3 separate regions of the Homo sapiens genome follow, and regions 1 and 3 are each linked to region 2. The links come from fine-mapping of genetic effects on gene expression. A gene starts in region 2. Each other region holds a variant in brackets. All regions are shown on one strand. Distances are between the middles of the regions.

Region 1 (5,391 bases), 26 kb after region 2:
CCACAAGTGTCCTCAGGGAGAGCTCCCAGTTCCCCACTCCTCGGCTCTTTCTCTGCTCTTCTTTCCACTCCGTCTCTCTTTACCTTTTCTGTCTCACTCACCAAACCCTTCTGTCTCTTCTCTTCCTTTTGTCCCTTTCCATCTTCTCTGTCTCTCCTTCCCTCCCTCCATCTCTTAGCTGTCGGCTGATGCTCCCTGTGTCCTCTTCTTGAGAGCTGAAGGGCGACTGGCAGACAGTCCAGGTCCTCTCTTTGTGTATTTTTGACCAAGACTCTGCAGCCCAATGACCGGGTTTTCGCATCTGCCAGAGCCCCTGTCACTCTAAACACTAGGAGCAAAAGAGATGTTCTAAATGAGACAAGGTATCTTAGCATGGGCTATGAGCTCCCTCTTGTTGGGGTTCTTCTGAGACTGGTCAGATCCTCCCTGTCAAGAATGCTGGAAGAGGCTCCTGCATGTATTGGGAGACTGGGCGAATGACTGCAAAAGCCCCTTTCAGCTCTTCAAGTCCTGGAAGGTTTCATTAAATCATTCAGACTAGAGTTTCTCTAAGCCCACAATGTCACTAGCAGCTAAGAAGATAACACATCTTGTAAATGCACCAGGGGATTGAATTTTAAATTTCAATTCAGTTAAAAACCCCTTGATTATTTAAGGTTATCCAGTTCAGTGCCCTGGCAATCCTCAAATACCTCAAATACCTCAAATGCCCTGGTATTTGCCTCAAATACCAATTTAATCTGAAGAAAGTGTCAGTTCTCCATTCCTCAGTGCGTGGAGAACTTAGCTTTCTAAGCTGAATCACTGGGAATGCCACTTCAGGTCTCATCCTGTCGCTGGTACCAGTCAGTGCACGTCCCCACAGTGCCTGTCCCGGGACAGGAGGGTGAGGTCAGCACCTTCAATTCAACAGAACCTCCTTAGAGATGAACCCCATCGACCACCCCACAGGGCACAGAGCCAGTTTCGGACTTCTCAGCGCTCCGCCTCTCTTAGGTCTCCTCTGAATCAGCAGCAACCCTGGGTGGGAGGGGCAGACTTTTGTTATTCCAAATTAAATGATGAGAAAGCTGGGCAAAAGGGAATGAATCGATTTGCCCAAGGTCTTAAGTGCTCCTGCCTAGAAGGCAGGTTTTTTAAAGAGAGAAGATGACTTTTTAAAATAATTGATGTTTTTTTAAAATGTAAGAAAAGTAAACAAATATATCAGGTCATAAATAATAAGACTCATTTAAGTCCATCAATCTTCCCCAGATTCATCTAAAAATCAATACGATCATGATTCAAGATCCAAAGGGCTGATTAAGCCCCTAGGCATATAGTTGTACTCCTTATACCTCATCTCTTCTTATAAATCGGCATATGATGTTCATCAATGTTTTTTCCTTTTTGAATAACTTTTTAATTTTACTATGATTCTAAATTTACAGAAGAGTTATAAGAATGATACAAGTAACTCCCATATGCAATTTATCCAAATTTCCCCAGTTATTCACATTTTATATCATTTACTTTATCATTCTGCCTCTCTCTGTATACATACATATATATAATGTATCCTATAAGTATATATACATATACATGATACATAATTTATACATATACTTTTTTTAAGAGAAAGCTATAGATATCATGCCCGTTTATCCCTAAGTATTTCAGTGTGTATTTTCTTTTTTGTTTTTGAGACAGAGTCTCGCTCTGTCACCCAGTGGCATGATTTCAGCTCTTTGCGGCCTCTGATTTCCCAGGCTCAAGGGATCCTCCCACCTCAACCTCTCAAGTAGCTGGGATTACAGGTGTGCACCACCATGCCTGCTAATTTTTGTATTATTTATTTATTTATGTTGGTAGAGATGAGGTCTCGCCATGTTGCCCAGGCTAGAGTGCAGTGGCACAATCTCAGCTCACTGCAATCTCCACCTCCTGAGTTCAAGCAATTCTCATGACTCATCCTCCTGAGTAGCTAGGATTACAGGTGCACACTCCCATGCCTGGCTAATTTTTGTATTTTTAGTAGAAACGGGGTTTCACCATGTTGACCAGACTGGTGTCGAACTCCTGACCTGAAGTGATTTGCCCACCCCGGCCTCCCAGAGTGCTGGAATTACAGGCATGAGCCACTGCACCCGGCCAGGTTTCTTTCTTTTTTCCTTTTTCTTTTCTTTTCTTTTCTTTTCTCTCTTTTTTTTTTTTTTTTTTTTTTTTTTTGAGTTGGAGTCTCGCTCTGTCACCCTGGCTGTAGTGCAGTGGTATGATCTTGGCTCACTGCAACCTCCACCTCCCAGGTTCAAGCGATTCTCCTGCCTCAGCCTCCCCAGTAGCTGGGACTACAGGCGAGCACCACCATGCCCAGCTAATTTTTGTATTTTTAGTAGAGATGGGGTTTCACCATGTTGGCCATGATTGTCTCCATCTCTTGACTTCATGATCCACCCGCCTCGGTCTCCCAAAGTGTTGGGATTACAGGCATGAGCCACCATGCCTGGCCTTCCTTTTTCTTTTTTTTTTTCTTTTTTTTTTTT[TG/G]TATGATCATACATTGCATTTACTTGTTGTATCTCCTTAGTCTTCTTTAACCTGGAATCTTTAATCTCAGCTTTTCTTTTTTATTTGACTGTGACATTTTTGAAGACTGCAGCTGAGTTATGTTGTAGGACAGCCCACAACTGGCGTTTGTCTAAATTGGTAGAATTGCCACTGATGTGATGTTGTGTCCTCGGTTCATCATACCATCCGGTACAAGACATCAGTTTGTCCCATCACTGGCGTAGTTAACTTTGATCACTTGGTTAAGGTGGTATCTGCCATGTTTCAACATTGTAAAGTTACTATTTTTTTCTTTGTAATTAATAAGCAACATGTAAGGATATATCTTGAGACTAAGTAAATATCCTATTGTTCAGTCAAATTTTCTACTGGCTTTGGCATCTGTTGATAATTTTCTAACCCCATCACCCCTTCTCTATTTATTAGTTGGCATTCCACTGTAAGGAAGAGCCTCCCTAGAAAGTGTTTTTCAGTTCCTCTCTCAGGGACTGAGCCTTCTTTCCCACTTAGTCTTTGTCTCCAAACCTACACCTGACTCCATTCCCCCTTATATCAAGGAGTGTCATTTCGGAACAATCGGTCTGAGATTTCTAAAGCAAATCCAATCAAAAGTGTTTATAGATGTGGTTCACACGTGAAAATGTGAGGTGATGGAAACCGGTTTGGTGGGGACAAAAAGGTAGGAACACCTCGTCTCTGCCACTCTCCCTTGCAACTCTCGTGGTTGCCCTATGACCGCCTGGAATGGAAGAAAGGGGAGGGTGAAGATCAGATGTCATTTAGGATTCTTATATAACATGCATTGAAGTCAGGGCTGGTGCACAAATATGGCCAATTCAAGGAGAAACAGGGCAGATAATCCCACAGAGCCGGTGACACGCCCATCCTATTCCTGAGTAGACAGAGCCATTTCCATCACTCTCAGGCCTCTGTGGGTAATTGGAGCTGACAAGGTCCCATGCATAGCAGATGAGATTAGTCCCAGCTGGACGTTTCCCAGAAATGGTCCTGGGGTTTCCAGTAACCTCTCAGATGAGATCACTTGTCTAGAGATCACTCTGGAATATGTCTCATATAAGGCAAGGAGTCATGGAAACTGAATCATGTTGAGAGAGGATGTTGTAGGAATAGAAGCTTCTGGACAAAGAATGAGGAAGACTCTGGAGATCTAGAGAGTGGGGATTTGTGAGTGGTTTCAGGTTTTGTTTTTGTTTTTCTTCTCTTGGCACCCCCAAGCACTAGGCTTATTTGCTGGACAGAAATAGATCTTAAGTGGAGACTGCAAGTTCTTCCGACGTGATGCACTGGAGGAGATGCATGCCTGGAAAAGCTCTGCCACTTGCTGGCTGGGTGGCCTGGGAACCTCTGGGTCTCAGGCTCCTCATCCATAAAATGGGGATAATAACTAATTCTCATTAAATAAGAAACACAAGATTGATTTGTGGTAAGCTTAATAAGTAACAACTACTCGAGAAAATAGCCTTTTAAAGAACTGACAACCATTGCTAAGTGTCTACCCTAAAAAAAGAAATACCAGAGATATAAGAAAAGGTATACGTGCAAAAAAAAAGTTCATTGTTTAATGGAAAATATTAGAAATATATTCAACAAAGGGAATGTTCAGTACCCCCTCCCCACCAAAAAAAAAAAAAAAAATGGAAGTTGACATTTTAACTAATTTTTAAAGACATGAGAAAATGTTACATGAGAATGAAGGAAACAAAATTATAAATATAATCTGACCTCAATTAGATAAGTATATGATGGGGAGTACGGAGACCATATATTTATAGGAATTATATAAAAGATATGAATAGAACACTTCAGGTACTAAGGTAAGCTCGTTTTGTTTTCTTCTTAGTTTTTCCTTAGGCTTCTTGCTGTTTCCCTCATTTTCTGCCATTTTCTCCTGTTGCTCAAACCTTGTTCACTGAGGCACCCCTTGATCTGGGGCTGGGGCTCCTGAGTGGCCTGACCCAGTGGGACAGAAGTGCTCTGGGCCATCAGTGTCATTTCTGATAACAAAGTCATGTGAATGACAGGCACTCCTGGGGGATCTGATAGCTCAGATTTTTGATTTGGAGAATGGAGTTCCCAACCTTGGAATAAGTGAGCACCTGTAAGTGAGACACTAGCACAGCTAACCCACTGCAGCCACCAACAGCAGCGGCAACAGCAGCCTGTCACCCCAAACACATCTGGAGAAGAAAGCAAGAATATATCCTCTTTCTTATTTACTGTTTTAGAAATCATTATTGCTGCCGCATTTCTGTTACAAGAAGGTTCTGTTGCTTCCTGGTGAGAGTCACCTTAGAAGTAGACTGTGCCTCTCCCCCTTCCTCTGCCCAATTAGCACCTGAGCTCTGCGCTCCCCAACCTTCCTGGATGGGCTGGAGGCACAGGCCTGTTGTTCGGTGTAATGTCCACTGGGACCTAGAAGTGGGTAGGGCTGGAGCCACTGCCTGTCTGCCTCTCTCTGACTTGGGGTGAATGAGAATGCAGAGGAAAATTTCAACATGGGCTCTGCTTTCTAATTCCTTCAAAACTGTCTTAGTCCCAAATTCAGATCAAGTCCATCATTGACTCATTGATTTATGAATATCTATTGGCTTACAATTCTGGCCATAAGTGGCACTGTGCTAGGCATGGAGGAGAAACCCAAGCAATGTCAACCCCTCTTTTCCCCAGGAGCATATAACATGGCTAGAGAACAAGACAAATCTAGGAAACAGTTAAGTGACAATGCCAGAGAAAGTCCCAAGCTGTGTAGAATAGACAGTAGAGGCTGTGGATGTTAGAATGAGGAGGGAGAGAGCACTATGGCTGAAGAGGTCAGAGAATAAAGGC
Region 2 (7,860 bases):
ATACCTTTCCAGTTCCAGGAGCTGTCCAGACCACACAGGTCTTTAAAAATAAGCCCCTATTTCTTTTGGAGTGGTGCTAGGGTGGTGGGTATTTCTAGTCCTATTATCCAAGAGATTTAAATAGAACCGAACCTCATCATAGAATCAGCACCAGCCCACTGCAGAGGTAGAAAAGGCACTGCTTTTAAGATGGTTATTGGTTTAGCTGTAACTAACTTACCATATGACCCTGAGTGAGTCATTTCACCTTGGGTTCCTCATCTATAAAATGAGGATAAAATCCATGTCTTCTGGTGTGGATCAGAGTAGGTAACTTAGGTGAAAGTCGTTTGCAAGCACTATAGTTGCAGAACACTCACCCAGCTGAGGCTACTCAAAGGGGACAGAGGCAGGGTGAAGGGCCTCACGGAAGTGCCATTTGGACAAACCGATGCAAACTTTGGAAGCAGGAACAGAGTTGGGAGTGGGGAGGCTGTTGGAAAACCCCATTGGCTGAGAGAAATCCCCTTAAGTGTCACAATTCAGAGAGAGAGACTGATTCTGAGAAGGGCACTGGGCAACCTGCCAACATGGGGCATCACCGAGTCCAGCAGAAGGGCACACAGGTGAGGCCGGGTGTGGTGGCTCAAGCCTGTAATCCCAGCACTTTGGGAGGCCAAGGTGGGCGGATCAGGAGGTCAAGAGATTGAGACCAGCCTGGTCAACATGGAGAAACTCCGTCTCTACTAAAAATACAAAAATTAGCTGGGCGTGGTGGCGCATGCCTGTAATCCCAGCTACTCAGGAGGCTGAGGTAGGAGAATCACTTGAACCCAGGAGGTGGAGGTTGCAGTGAGCCAGGGTCATGCCATTGCACTCCAGGCTGGGCAACAAGAGTGAAACTCCGTCTCAAAAATAAATAAATAAGAAGTGCACACAGGTGAAGTGTGCTGTTTCCATACCCTGTTGCAAGGCCACACTGGAATCTCTGCCACACCTCAACACGGACTGAATTCTAGTAAACAGAGGCCAGCCTGAGGGGCAGGAAAACTGGTTTCTGCTCCTAGACCTTTTCTATCTCCTAGATAGGTGTGATGTTGGGCAAATCATTCTGCCTCTTCTTTGGTTCTCTTGCCTGCAAAATAGGGTAGTAATAACTATTTGTGGGGAGAAAAAAAAAACAACTTTATATTTGTACAGTTCTTTATTTGGATGCTATAAAATATTCTCATAAACTTGATCTTTTTATTTTTAATCTTCTCAACAACCTTGTGAGGCAGGTGAGGTAGAAACTTAATGGCACAAATAGTGGATGACATCTATAGTGTATCATTACATGGCAGTATTGTACTAAACACCATATATTGGTATTGCATTGAATTCCCAAGCAACTATTGGAAGCAGGAACTACTGTTATCTTTTTTTTTTTTTTTTTTTTGACATATGAGCAAACTGAGGCTGAGGGTAAGGAAGTAACTTGCTCAAAGTCACTCAACTAACTGGTAAGCCTGGGATTAGAAACCAGATCTGATTATAAGGCTAGAGTTTTCCATTAGGCTAAAATGCATATGTGAAAGCACTTTGGGGAAATAAAGCTTAGAAATGTGAACAAATGGGCCAAGTGCAGTGGCTCATACCTGTAAAACCAGCACTTTGGGAGGCCAAGGTGAGAGGATTGCTGGAAGCCAGGAGTTTGAGACCAGCCTGGGCAACATAGCAAGTCTCTGTCTCTACAAAACAATAAAAATAAAATAAAAAATGGTCGCAAACACCTGTAGTTTTAGATACTCCAGAGGCTGTGGTGTGAGGATCACTTAACCCCAGGAGTTTGAGGCTGCAGTGGGCTATGATCAAGCCAGTGCTCTCCAGCCTGGGCAACAGAGCGAGACACTGTCTCACACACACACACAAAAAAGACAATATAGTATTATAGAAGCAGACTTTAAGATGAGGAGAAAGTAAAAGGAAAAATAAAAATAAATTTTTAAAGATTTGCACAAATGGAATAAGTTTTTTTTTTGGAGACGGAGTCTCGCTCTGTTCCCTAGACTGGAGTGCAGTGGTACAATCTCAATCTCGGCTCACTGCACTCTCTGCCTCCCGGGTTCAAGAGATTCTCCTGCCTCAGCCTCCCAAATAGCTGGGATTACAGGTGCACACCACCATGCCTGACTTTGTATTTTTAGTAGAGACAGGGTTTTGCCATGTTGGCCAGGCTGATCTTGAACTTCTGACGTCAGGTGATCCACCCGCCTTGGCCTCCCAAAGTGCTGAGTGCTGGAATTACAGGTGTGAGCCGAGCCACTGCACCTGGCCTTTTCTTTTCTTTTCTTTTTTTTTTTTTTTTTTTAGACAGAGTCTCATTGTGTCTCCCAGGCTGGAGTGCAGTGGCACGATCTTGCCTCACTGCAACCTCCACTTCCCGGGTTCAAGCAATTCTCGTGCCTCAGCCTCCTGAGTAGCTGGGACTACAGGCACACAACGATGACACCCCACTAATTTTTTGTATTTTTAGTAGAGATGGGGTTTCACCATGTTGGCCAGGCTGGTCTCGAACTCCTGACCTCAGGTGATCCGCCCACCTCAGCCTCCCAAAGTGCTGGGATTACAGGCGTGAGCCACCGCACCCAGCCTGAAGAAGTTTTTATTATAGCAAATCCCAGTTATACATCTTTTTACTTGGAAAAAATTATGGTGGACATTAATAATTAGACAAAACACTTTGGCTTGTTGTAAGTGAAGCTAGCCATTGTAAATTCCTAAATACTAGAGTAACATAAGGAAATGAATAATTTAGAAAGATCAGTAGGACAGCGGTATACAAAATGGTTGGAGCACAGGAATTCCAATTGGTGTGGGGAAGGAAGAAAGGATTAAGAACCATAATTAGAAAGCCGCTGCAATAAGGTAACTGAGTGGCAACTGGACCCAATGGTAGTGGCCGACTTTTCTTTTTCTTGTTAAATATAGATTTTGTTAAAATTTTGAAAAATGCAAAAAAAATTGAAAAATGCAAAAATAGGAAAATAAATCACCCATTATTCCAGTACTGAAGTAAATGGTGTCAATACACTAGTTTCAGTCCGGGCTTTGTGGTTCATGCCTGTAATCTCAGTCCTTTGGGAGGCCAAGGCCAGAGGATCACTTGAGGACAGGAATTCAAGACCAGCCCACAAAATAACGAGAGCAATATAATGAGACCCTGTCTCTACAAGAAAATTAAAAAAAAAAACAAAAAATTAGTCGGCTGTGGTGGCACGCACTTGTAGTCCAGCTACTTGGGAGGCTGAGGCAGGAGGATCACTTGAGGCAGGAGTTTGAGGCTGCAGTGAGCTATGACTGTGCCACTGCACTCCAGCCTGGGCAGCCGAGTGAGACTCAGTCTCTAAAAGGAAAAAATAAGTAAATAAATAAATGTGTGTGTGTGTGTGTGTGTATACACACACAACAATTTAAAGGTGAAAACATTAATAGGGCTTGGTAACTATCCAGACACTGGCCGGAGCCAAACCAGCCTGGCCAGCCAACTGTCCCGCCCCCAAAAAGCACAGGTTCATGTCTCTATGGTTGTTCCAGCGCCGGAACATGAGGATGTACTCTCTTCTTTTGCGGAACTCTATGGTCTGAGGACGCCGCTGTAACCCCGGAAGCAATCCTGAGAGGTCGGGACCGGCAAGATGGCGGCGCGGACAGCGTTCGGTGCTGTGTGCCGGCGCCTCTGGCAGGTACTGGATTGGCTAGGGAGACTAGGAGGGCTGACCGGGATAGTTGCTTTTAAGTTTCCCTGCCACCAGCCGCTCTGCCCATCAGGATTTTTCCTGATATTTATCCCTCACCTCGCGCCGTTTACAGGAAAGTGACGAGAAAGGGGCTAGTTTTATCAGAATTCTCTCATGGAATTAAATATAAGTTAGTGAGTCCAGGCAAAGATAGGAACAAGAATAATCGTAGAATGTCAGAGCTGGAAAAGATTTTGTACTTCGTATGTTCCAAAACCCCTCCTTTCACGCTTGCAAAATAAACTGAGGCTCAGAGAAGACAGGAAATTTGCCTCGCGAAAATTAGAGGCTGAGCTGGTGCAAGATATCAGACTCTTCCCATGGAACTAAATTGAGATGCTTTCCTGGCATCCAAATTTAGATGAAGGTCTCAAGCCAGAGAAGTGGGTTAGATATCCTCTGCGCAGTTATTTGCAGGAGGAGCAAAAACTTTTCAGCAGCGGTTCTCCTGCTTTTTGGCCTTGGGACCACTTTACACTTTCGGAGTTCAGGACTCCAGAGAGCTTTTGTTTTTGTGGGTTTTTGCTATCTATATTTAGCTTTTTGGAAAATAAAACTTAAGAATATATATTGATTTAAAAGTAACACTAACTCATTACATGTTACAACTAATACTTTATGAAAAATATATTTTCTGAACAAACTGAGTAAGGAGCAGCAATGTTTTACATTTTTGCAGCTCTCTTTAATTTCTGGCTTAATAAAAGCTAGATTCAAATCTGCTTCTGTATTTAATCTTTTCCTATATCACACCTCAGGCTGTCACGGGAAAACTTCACTGTACACTGGTAAGAGAATGAGTGGAAAAGTTGTAAATGACGTTTTGGTTTTATGAAAATAGTTTTGATTTCCCGGATCCCCTGAAAGTGTCTCAGACCCCACAGACGTCCTCAGACTACACTTTGAGACCACCGTTTTTGTTTTTGTTTTTGTTTGGAGACGGAGTTTCGCTCTTGTCGCCCAAGCTGGAGCGCAATGGCACGATCTCGGCTCACTACAGCCTCCACCTCCCGGGTTCAAGTGATTCTCCTACCTCAGCCTCCCGAGCAGCTGGAATTACAGTCATGCGTCACCATGCCCAGCTAGTATTTGTATGTTTAGCAGAGACGGGGTTTCACCATGTCGGTCAGGCTGGTCTCGAACTCCTGACCTCAAGTGATCCGGCAGCCTCGGCCTCCCAAAGTGCTGGGATTACAGCCTTGAGCCACCGCACCCGGCCTGAAAACCACTGTTCTTGAGAAAAGTCAGATGGTATTAGAGATTGAAATTTTTGAACTGCTTTATTAAGACAAATTTACCCAGACAGCCCTCCCTTCCAAACCACCACTCCCCCAACACACACACACACACACACACACACACTCTCTCTCTCTCTCTCTCTCTCTCTCAAGAAATACAAAGAAAAAATGCAATTTAAAAACTTCTTGGCCGGGCACGGTGGCTCACGCCTGTAATCCCTACACTTTGGGAGGCCGAGGTGGGCGGATCACGAGATCAGGAGATCAAGACCATCCTGGCTAACATGGCAAAACTCCGTCTCTACTAAAAATACAAAAATTAGCTGAGTGTGGCGGTGGGCCCCTGTAATCCCACCTACTCAGGAGGCTAAGGCAGGAGACTTGCTTGAACCCAGGAGGCGGAGGTTTCAGTGAGCTGAGAATGCTCCACTGTACTCCAGCCTGGGCGACAGAGCAAGACTCTCTCAAAAAAAAAAAAAAAAAGAAAAGAAAAAAAAAAGAAAAGAAAAAGCAGAGGTTTATAGTGGGAGAATGTGACTGAGAAGTGTAATATTCTTGCTCCTCTTGCACAACTCGATTGTGGGGTCACTGGTGTAATTGTTGGGAGGGAATTTTCTATGCAATTTTGTCTGAAGAATGGCACATACCTCTTACCACTTTGTGTTGTACCTGATTTCCTTTTTCCTTTTCCCCTTTGGTGCAAAGAAGATTATAGAGTTATGATTTGTCTCTATCTTGGGTAAGGAGAGGAAGGACAATAAGCTAAGAATAGGCTTTTAAAACGTGGCTAGGTGGTGGTTCACTCCTGAAATCCCAGCACTTTGGGACACTGAGGCTGGAGGATCGCTTGAGCCCACGAGTTCAAGACCAGCCTGGGAAATATGGTGAAACCCCATCTCTACAAAAGTACAAAATATTAGCTGGGCCTGGTGGCCCGTGCCTGTAGTCCCAGCTATCTGGGAGACTGGGGTGGGAGGACCACCTGAACCTGGGAGGTCCAGGCCATGATCATGCAACTGCACTCCAGCCTGGATAACAGAGTGAGACCTTGTCTCAAAAAAACCCTGAAAAAACAAACAAAAACGTACTTAGGTGACAATCATTTGTATTAATGAAACTTCACTTATGCTAAACTTCTTTTTTTTTTTTTGAGAGGGAGTCTCGCTCTGTCACCCAGCCTGGACCTCCGCCTCCCGGGTTCAAGCGATTCTCCTGCCTCAGCCTCCCAAGTAACTAGGATCACAACCGCACCGCCACCATGCCTGGCTAATTTTTGTATTTTTAGTAGAGACAGGGTTTCACCATGTTGGCCAGGCTGCTCTGGAACTCCTGACTACAAGTGATCCACCCACCTTGGCCTCCCAAAGTGCTGGGATTACAGGTGTGAGCCACGGCACCTGGCCTTATTTTCATCTTCATTGTGTTTTTAAGGATTCTATTGTGTTTCCACTTTCTCAGGTTACACTTCAAAATCTCAGAAAAGTTGAAAGGAAAAAACAGCTGTTATATGTAGTAGTATCGTTTGTTTCCTAAAACTGGAAAGTCTTGTTCCACCAGGGGGAGCTGATGGTAAAGGATTTGGAAATGTGGGTTCGTTGTAGCATGTGGCACAGTAGTTAATGATGGGTATAAGTCACAGCACATATTTCAGTTCATTATAAGCTAGTTATCCCAGCCAAGCTAAGAAATATGTATGCTTTAAAAGATGTATGAAAGCATCAAAAGAGGGATACTTCAGAATTTTTATTCCAACTCTTAACAAATTATAAAAACAATATATTTTATTGCTTAAAGATATTCAGGCAAAATAAGTATTATACTGAAGTACAATTAATTTGTAAAAAATAATGGGAAAATGAAGTCACATTTTTTCTTGATGTCCACATAATTCATAGCTTTTTTTAAATGTGAGAATTGTTTTTTTTGAAAAAGTTTTTATTCCTAATCTTTAAAATAGAGATTCTCTAGTATTTTGAGACTGCTTTTTTTTTTATCATCAGCTCTACCATTGTCCTCTTTTTTTTTTCAATCTAATTTGGCCATTTTAGTTACCCCAGTATCTTCGTCTGAAATAATGAGGTAACCTTTTAGTTTTTAGTGGAAATTATGAATGGTTTGGTAGTTGACTTTAATTCTAACACATGTCCTACTTTTTTTTTCTTTAGGGATTGGGGAATTTTTCTGTAAACACTTCTAAGGGCAATACAGCCAAAAATGGTGGCTTGCTTCTGTAAGTATACAATTGGATGTGCTAAATTGAACAAAATAGGTTCTTGTGCTATTTTACTTAGGTTTCTCTTTTTTTCCCCACACATAGCAGTACCAATATGAAGTGGGTACAGTTTTCAAACCTACACGTTGATGTTCCAAAGGATTTGACCAAACCTGTGGTATGTACTCCCTGTTTCTTGGTATAAGGAGCTACCTTGGCAATAGGTTTTCCTTATTATTTCATTGGGTTTTTTTTCCCCAAACACTCTATGAATAAAAAAATTTTGTCCTAGAATACTGGCAAATGCACAACGCATATATTCTCTTAACTCCCTGGATTATATTGTCTTCAGGGTATCAAAGTAAGTTCTAAAGGAATAAATTATTTACCCCCAAATAACTGTGTTAATTAGTAGTCTCTTGCTTTTAGCTTGGCATAATGGAAGAGTTGTCAGAATTTGTGATGTAGAATACTTGATTTATGTTATGGAAAAGTATTTTTCTTGTAGCCTTCAAGTCTTTGTTTTCATTTTGTGTATTGAGCCTGGGCCTGGACAGTGCTTTATTGTTCACAGTGAGAAAATGCGTTAGCACAAATAATAAACATCTAGAAGGAACTTGGTAACCCTGTAGAAGCTATGATTTCATCAATC
Region 3 (7,860 bases), 43 kb after region 2:
TACTCCAGAGGCTGCCAATCAAATCTAATAAGCCAGCATCCACTGGGGTGTGAATGGCTGGCGCTGTCTGTTCACAGGCATCTGGGTTTTAGCGAGCGCTGCCTGCTTCCCTGTGATTGTCAAGCATGAGCCTTTCCAGTTAGGGGAAATGGGAGACATGTGCGTAGGTGGGAGGAGGAAGAACTGCACCCCCAGGGATGGGAGCGTGGTTTGGGTGAGCTTTTGGGAGTTTCTCACCCTGCTGCCTGAGGGGCTGAGGCCCCCGGAAGGCCTTAAACACTCTGAACCCCACAGTGGGCTCATTCAGTCCCAACCCACCTCCCAGGACTGTCATCAGCACAGAGCCCAGAGAGGCCCCTAGACAGCACAGCTTGAATAAGCAAGAAAACTGCTAAAGAGGTTTCCTCTGGGGGAGGGGACACCAGGTGAGGATACTTTTGCTCTTCATTTTTTATCTTTCTGTATTGCTGGAAATTTCTACAATGAGCTGGATTGCTTTTGCAGGTTTTTTTTTTAATGTCTAAAAAGGGGCAATGGAAAAGGTGTGGATTTTTGTGCCAGAAAGATCTAAATCACCTTGGATAAGTCACATGACCTTGAGTCTCCGTATTCCCAGGTATAAAATGGAATGACAGTGTGCACTTTTCAAGATTGTGGTATGCATTAGATTCAATGAAAATATATAGCAATACTAACTTTTCTTAGTGCTCTCCATGGACTTCCTAGGCTGAGTGCTTTATTCATTTTACTCATTTAATCTCAAGCCACCCCCAAGAGGTGAATATTTTTGTCTCTAGTTTGAATGACAAAGCCAAAGTTGAGAGAGATTAGGCCAAACAGCTAGTGAATGACAAAGCCTCTCCTAAATCATCCTATATCAGTACTCAAATGCAGATGGAGATTTGCATTGATTTGTGTGCACCTGTGTGATTGTCAGACAAACCCAAGCCCAGACAAACATTTGAAGTAAGCAAAGCAAATGGCCTGTCCCCCAGGTTTCACTCCCCAGTCACACTCTGTACTCCCCAGCCCTGCACATCTGGTGCAATACCCAAAGATACAACCATTTTTTAGTGCAAGGGCTGGCACTTGCACTAAAAACTTTTTAGTTTTTATTAGAAAATGGCAAACTTTTTCTGTAAAGAGCCAAAGAGTAAATATGCAGCTTTGCAGCCAAACACCCTCTGTCATTTTACGTGAAAGCAGCCATAGACAATTCTCTACGTAAATAAATAGATGTGGTGAGTTCTAATAAAACTTCATTTACAAAAACAGGCCTGTGTGCTGTCATTTGCCTGTCCCTGTTTAACTCCTCTCTGTATCAAAACTTCTGGACAGGTGCAGTGGCTCACACCTGTAATCCCAGCACTTTGGGAGGCCGAGGCAGGTGGATCACCTGAGGTCAGGAGTTCGAGACCAGCCTGGCCAATGTGGTGAAAACCTGTCTCTACTAAAAATACAAAAATTAGCCAGGCGTGGTGGTGGGCACCTGTAATCCCAGCTACTCAGGAGGCTGAGGCAGAAGAATCACTTGAACCCAGGAGGTGGAGGTTGCAGTGAGCCGAGATCGTGCCATTGCACTCCAGCCTGGGTGACAAGAGCAAAACTCCATCTCAAAAAACAACAACAACAACAAAAAACAAAACAACAACAACAACAAAAACTTCCCAATCCTGTGTTCCATCTCCTAGCCAATCTGCTAAACTGCTCCATGCTGATGACAATGGGTCAAGACAGTATTATGCAAAGTGTGATTGTGTGCCATGGGTGTAGATGAGGCAGGTTGGGTGTTACAAAGTCACTCTTCATTTTAATATTTGCAGAGTTAAATTGATGTATATTATAAAATAACTAGCCATTAAATTCCTGATTTCTCATATATTCATTCACTCATACAATGAATATTATTAAGCACCTGCCACAATCCAGGCACTGTTCTAGGAACCAGGGATTCAACAGTGAACAAGACAAAAATCCCTGCCCACATGGAGCTCACATTCCAGCAGGGGGAGACAGGCGATAAACGTAATGGTGAAATGTTATTTAAATCTGGTATTGGAAGACGACAGGTGCTTGCGGGGAAAGGTGGGACTAGGAAATGCAGAGGTGGGAACCAGTCCCAGTTTTAAACAGAGTTTAAACCAGAAGATCACGGCAGGGGTTAGTGAGGAGACTTCTAAGCAGAGACTTGCAGCAGAGGAAGGTGTAAGCCGAGCAGAATTCTGGGGGCAGAGAGGGTCCCAGGCAGCACAAAACCCCTAAGGCGGGGGTGTGTGTGGAATAAGGGAGGAGGCCAGACTGCCTAGAAACAAGGGGTTGATTTACTTTCAGTGGAAAGACAAGGGTCAGGTTTGGTACAGTACAGGTGGTGCTCGCATGGGACACACATTAAGACATGGTTGGCTCAGCGTGGTGGCTCACGCCTGTAATCCCAGCACTATGGGAGGCCGAGGTGGGCGGATCACCTGAGGTCAAGAGTTTGAGACCGGCCTGGCCAACATAGTGAAACCCCATCTCTACTAAAAATACAAAAATTAGCCAGGCATGGTTGTGGGTGCCTGTAATCCCAGCTACTTGAGAGGCTGAGTGAGGCAGAAGAATCGCTTGAGCCCAGGAGGTGGAGGTTGCAGTGAGCCGAGATCACGCCACTGCACTCCAGTCTGGGCGACAGAGCGAGACTCCATCTCAAAAAAAAAAAAAAAAAAAAAAAAAGACATGATTAGGCAAATACAGGGTCGATGTGCCCCAGGGTTGCCCTCCCCCACCCCCACCGGCGTCATATGTGTGACTGTAAGGGTCCTTCTGCAGACATGTCTTAACCCAAAGGGTTTTCTTAGCAGGTGAGAAGATGAGATATGTCGCTGTTTGGGGGTAAGGTGTGAGGCTCAACCATCCATTTGTCCTTCCCCTCCTGTTCAGGAGTTATTCCTTCTTCGGGAGCATTTTGAGTGTTGAATGTGATGATGCCATCCCTCCCAGTCTCTGTACACAGGCTCTGGACTCTGCTCACCTGCTCCCGCTTCGGGAAAGCCCTTGGGCTCCCTCATACTACACCTGAGGTTGACACTCAAAGCCCGTAATCTACTTTGGTCCCTTATCCTTAAATATTAGTGAGTTTTAAATAGCCACTGAGCCCCAGCTTTCCCAAGAAGCCCCACCCATGATGGTGCCTGGACCTTCTGGGCAGCGAGGGAAGGAACCTCTCCCGGGTCTGCAGAGGACACGCGGCAGCGCCTCATTGCATCCTCACTTTTCAAGTGAGGGGCCACAGGGTGGGGAGCCACGTTTGCAGATTTGGGCTCTTCCACAACTATGTCTTGACCAAATAGTTCCAAATGAATGGAAGATTTACTATGAAAACCAACAAACATCTTAACTAATGCTCCCAACATCCACGGCATCATGAATATACTGGGACTGAGAGGGGAAATGATGGGCTCAAGGTCACCCAGCGGATGAAAGCTAGGGACCCAAACCCACAGTCCCAAACTCACCTTTCAGTGACCCCTCTAGCTTATCAATTAGGAAGTCCTTACCTAATGCGTCCAGGTGGCTACTGAGGAGACACAATTTGACCACGGTGTGGACCTTCAGGCTCACTTGAGAAAAGGTGATATGAGGTCACTGGGTATTTTGAAGTTGGGAGCATTCTGGGTTCTCCAGGGACCAGGCAACCCTGTCTGTCTCCAGTCCTCATGTCCGCAGAATATTATAAGTGGCCTGCCCATGCCAGACAGTGAGGCTAG[A/G]GAATCATCATCTTGCTCCCTGCTCTCTGCCCCTCTGCCCACATCCTTGGGAGCTTCAAAGGGTGTTTGCAAAAGCACCACGTATAGGACCAGCACATCGCAGGTGTTCAATGACCATCTTGGAAGTGTTTACACTCGTTTTGGAGTAAACCAAGATATGCCTGTGGCAGAGGTGGAGGAAGCCATTGGATTCAGCCTCGGATTACACTAATGTGTGGGCCTCTCTGTCTTGCCCTAGAAAGTGAGGGCAGGGACAATGTCTGATACATTTCTAACCCCCCAGTGCCTGATTCACAGTTGGTGCTCATTAAAGCACAAACATTAGATCCGTTGAAACCCTAGTGTCAAAAACCCACCTATCAAATAAACAAATGACTGTATAAATGAAGTTGCTCCCCAGCGGACACTTCTATGCTCCTCTCTGCTCTTCCTCACCCCCAGCTGGTCAGGCTTCCAGAGGGGTCCCTCCAGCACTTCCCCTCCCTGCCACTGGGCCCCTGCTCACCTTGTTGAAGTCAAAAGTCTCAAACATCTGTTCCACGTACTGGCTGGCCGACGGGCTCAGGTTCTTGAGGCCGAAGAACTGGCGGAACTCATAGAGGGTGAGTTGGCCAGAGGGGCACTCAGTCATGAACTTCTTGTACCACTGGTGGCACTCGGTGCTGCTCAGCTCCTCCACTGACTTTCCCTCCATCACGTTGCCCATTGCTCAGGCCTTCAGGGGGCTGACGTCTGAGATGGACAGGCCCTGTTCGCTGCTCCTCGCCCAAAGGTGTCTTGGCCGACAACGGGGCCGTCCTCTCTCACAGGCCTGAGTCCTTCAGGCCTGAGCAAAGAAGGGCCTGATGGATCAGATGGTACCGGGAAATGTGGAGAGGGAGAGAGCAGAAGGAAGAAGATGATGGCCCACACTCAAACTCACAGATGCCAGAGAACTGGTGTTAAGAGTCTCCACTAAATCCTTGCAGCCCCAGGGGAGACTGTACCCTGGAGAAAAGAGTTGAAAATAGAACAAGGCTTAGAGAAGCAGAGTCCTTAGGATTACAGCCTTGAGCTGTAGGTGAGAGGATTTTTTAACCCAGTTTGCAATCTTCTAATCCCTTCTTACCACCACGGAGTGGGTGTCAGCTAGAAGCTGCTCTGATCCTATGACCTTTGTGACCTTCTTCTCCTGGTTTGAGTGGATTCACAGTGGTTTTGGATTCTGCCTTCAATCATGGAATTGAGGTATATATGAGATAGAGCTGGCTTCTTGTCCAGAGATGGCCAACTGTGGGCTCTTGACAGGGCTGCTGTGTACAGTTATCCAGGCTGTGCACTGCACTTGGCCATCACAACTGAGGGGGTCCAATCATACCATGAGTGTGCTAACATTTGAGGGCACCTGGGTGGATGCAGAGTCTGTGGGCTTCCAAGATAAGCCTTGAACAGCCAGAGAGAACCCCCTCCTACATTAGCCTGCACCAGTACACAGAGACGTGCACACACATACACACACTCGTACACACTCATCCTGTTCTGGCCACACTCTCATGTTCCTGAAGGTTGCATCTCTCCCTTCTTGAGAGCCCTGAATTCATCCTTCCATCTAATTCTGAGCCTCACATCATCACCATCACCTACTAGGGGCACAGGGCAGGGGACATGGAGTGTGCGCCTGGTGCCCTGGGGTATGTGTGAGTGTGAGAGTGCAGGCACACAGGTGCATGGGTGAGCTGCTACCTGCTGGTCCTGGAAAGCTCCCAGGCCAAGCCTGGGGGCCTGTCTATGCAGCAACAGCTTTCTCTGATGCCTGGTGGGATGCGTACTCCCTAGCCACACACTTAAAAGCTGGCTCATTTATGGAACCAGCATTTGGGTGCAGGTGCACTTAACCTGGATGCTGCCAGGAAAGCTTAAAGCCAGCGCTTGCCCTGCCCTGTCTTTTTCTCTTGTTTGCCTTCCTCCTTTACATATGGGGCACACCCAGGTCTCCTAACTCATCTAGAGGGAACCACTGCCCATATTTCTGCTTTCCCCACCAGGGCCTTGGACACTTGGTCAAGTTGTGCACTGATACACAATTTATATGATTTATATAAATAATATATAATTACATGTAAATAGATTTATATAAATATACAATTTATACAACATATAACATATATCAAATACATGTGCATACATATTTCAGAATGGGCTAGGTTATGCTACAGTAACAAACCACTCTAAAATCTCAGTGGCTGAAAACAATACAAGCTTGTTTCTTGCTTACATTACTGGCTGGGTGACCTTGAGCAAGTAACTTAACCTCTCTGGGCCCCAGTTTCCTCATTCTTAAAATAGGAATAATGGCGCCCATCTGATAGGGCTGTTAAGGGGAGTAAGTGGGGCTGGGCACGGTGGCTCACACCTGTAATCCCAACATTTTGGGAGGCCGAGGCGGGTGGATCACTTGAGGCCAGGAGTACGAGACCAGCCTGGCCAACATGGTGAAACCTCATCTCTATTAAAAATACATAAATTAGCCAGGCGTGATGGTGCACACTCCTGTAATCCCAGCTACTCGGGAGGCTGAGGCAGGAGAATCGCTTGAACCCAGGAGGCGGAGGTTGCAGTGAGCCAAGATCGCACCACTGCACTCCAGCCTGAATGACAAAGCGAGACCCTATCTCAAAAAAAAAAAAAAAAAAGAGTATGTGAGTTAATATAAGAAAAGCATTTAGAACAAGGTCTGCCCCAGAGTAAGTGCCCCATAAATCTTGGCTATGATGTTATGATTTTGTATCTATTACAGCAGCATGTCTGATGTGCTGTTCACTACAATCTAGGTGCACTTATACTGCATCTTGGACACAGCAGCATCCCTGGGTTAGAGCCAATCGTGCTCTTGTCCCTTTAGCCCCATTCACTCTGGGCCCTGGACGGCCAGAAGGGCTATGTGTAGGAACAGACATCCAACCTGCCTCACACAGGCCACCTACCAGCTGTAGTCAGGCCCTAGGGAAGGTGGAGGCCTTTGTTAAAGCCTTACCAGATCCAGGCTCACGCCTGTAATCCCGGCACTTTGGGAGGCTGAGGCGGGTGGATCACAAGGTCAGGAGTTCGAGACCAGCCTGGCCAACATGGTAAAACCCCATCTGTACTAAAAATACAAAAATTAGCCAGGCATGGTGGTGGGCGCCTGTAATTCCAGCTACTTGGGAGGCCGAGGCAGGAGAATCACTTCAACCTGGGAGGCGGAGTTTGCAGTGAGCCGAGACTACGCCATTGCACTCCAGCCTGGGCGACAGAGAGAGACTCCATCTCAAAAAAAAAAAAAAAAATTGTTCATAATGAACATATGTTGCTCACAAAATCAAAGAGGATAGTTATTTTTGAAAAAGAGACAAACTGGGACTGTTTTACCTCTACTCCACATGAATTGATTGACGGAAGGTATATGGGGGTGGGGAGCTGGGTTCTCCCTGCTTCAGTCAGCTTCTCCACAACAAGTTAAGGGACGGGGAGAGAAGGACTCCTTCTGTGAACTTGCTTGGGGCCCAGCTGGAAAATGTGTCCTTGCCGAGGACTCTCAGGCCCAAGATTGGGAAATGAAGAGGTTGGGGACAAGGCAGCCGCTCATCTTTCCCTTTCTATTTAAATCCCTCTCACTCTTCATGTGTGAGTACAAATGCCACCTCCTCTGTGAAGCCTTCCCAAATCTCTCTCAAATATCTTCCTCCCACAGCATACTGACATTTTGCTTATGTGTTGTGACAGTTAATTTTAGGACTGGATGAAGGGATTACCCAACAAGCTGGTAAAGCTTTATTTCTGGGTGTTTCTGTGAGGGTGCTTGCCAAAGAGACTGGCATTTGAATTCATGGACTAAGTAAGGAGAATCTGCCTTCAGCCTATGTGGGTGGGCACCATCCAATTGGCTTAGGCCTGGACAGAAGAAAAAGGCAGGGGAAAGGTGAATTCTCTCCCTCTCTCTCTCTCTCTCTGTCCTGGAGCTGGGACACTCTTCTTCTCCTGCCCTTGGACTCCAGGACTTGCACCAGTAGCAACCCCTCCCCACTCTCACGTTCTCAGTCCTTCAGCTTCAGACCCAGAGTTACACCATCAGTTTCCTTGGCTCTGAACCCTTTGG

What was found.
Region 1: its variant is fine-mapped to the expression of MRPS10 in monocytes after LPS (Fairfax 2014, PIP 0.95). The same link has a PIP of 0.9 or more in CD4 T cells, skin and subcutaneous fat.
Region 3: its variant is fine-mapped to the expression of MRPS10 in whole blood (TOPMed, PIP 0.95).

What each region holds. Positions count from the first base shown.
Region 1 is chr6:42,189,171-42,194,561 of GRCh38, reverse strand. All of the region lies in intron 1 of GUCA1B (guanylate cyclase activator 1B), which reads left to right. Among named protein-coding and RNA genes, the nearest start is that of GUCA1B, 3.1 kb to the left of the region's middle. The variant TG/G (reference allele first, on the strand shown) is at 2,523.
Region 2 is chr6:42,213,646-42,221,505 of GRCh38, reverse strand. MRPS10 (mitochondrial ribosomal protein S10) reads left to right here and starts at 3,645. Exons shown (of 7, transcript NM_018141.4): 1 at 3,645-3,704; 2 at 7,162-7,226; 3 at 7,314-7,386. The coding sequence starts at 3,657. RefSeq lists enhancers at 3,478-3,757, 4,329-4,930, 4,931-5,533.
Region 3 is chr6:42,170,206-42,178,065 of GRCh38, reverse strand. It overlaps GUCA1ANB-GUCA1A (GUCA1ANB-GUCA1A readthrough), which reads right to left. Exons shown (of 5, transcript NM_001319062.2): 2 at 4,252-4,733. The coding sequence starts at 4,452. GUCA1A (guanylate cyclase activator 1A) reads right to left here and starts at 4,702. Exons shown (of 4, transcript NM_001384910.1): 1 at 4,252-4,702. The coding sequence starts at 4,452. The variant A/G (reference allele first, on the strand shown) is at 3,747.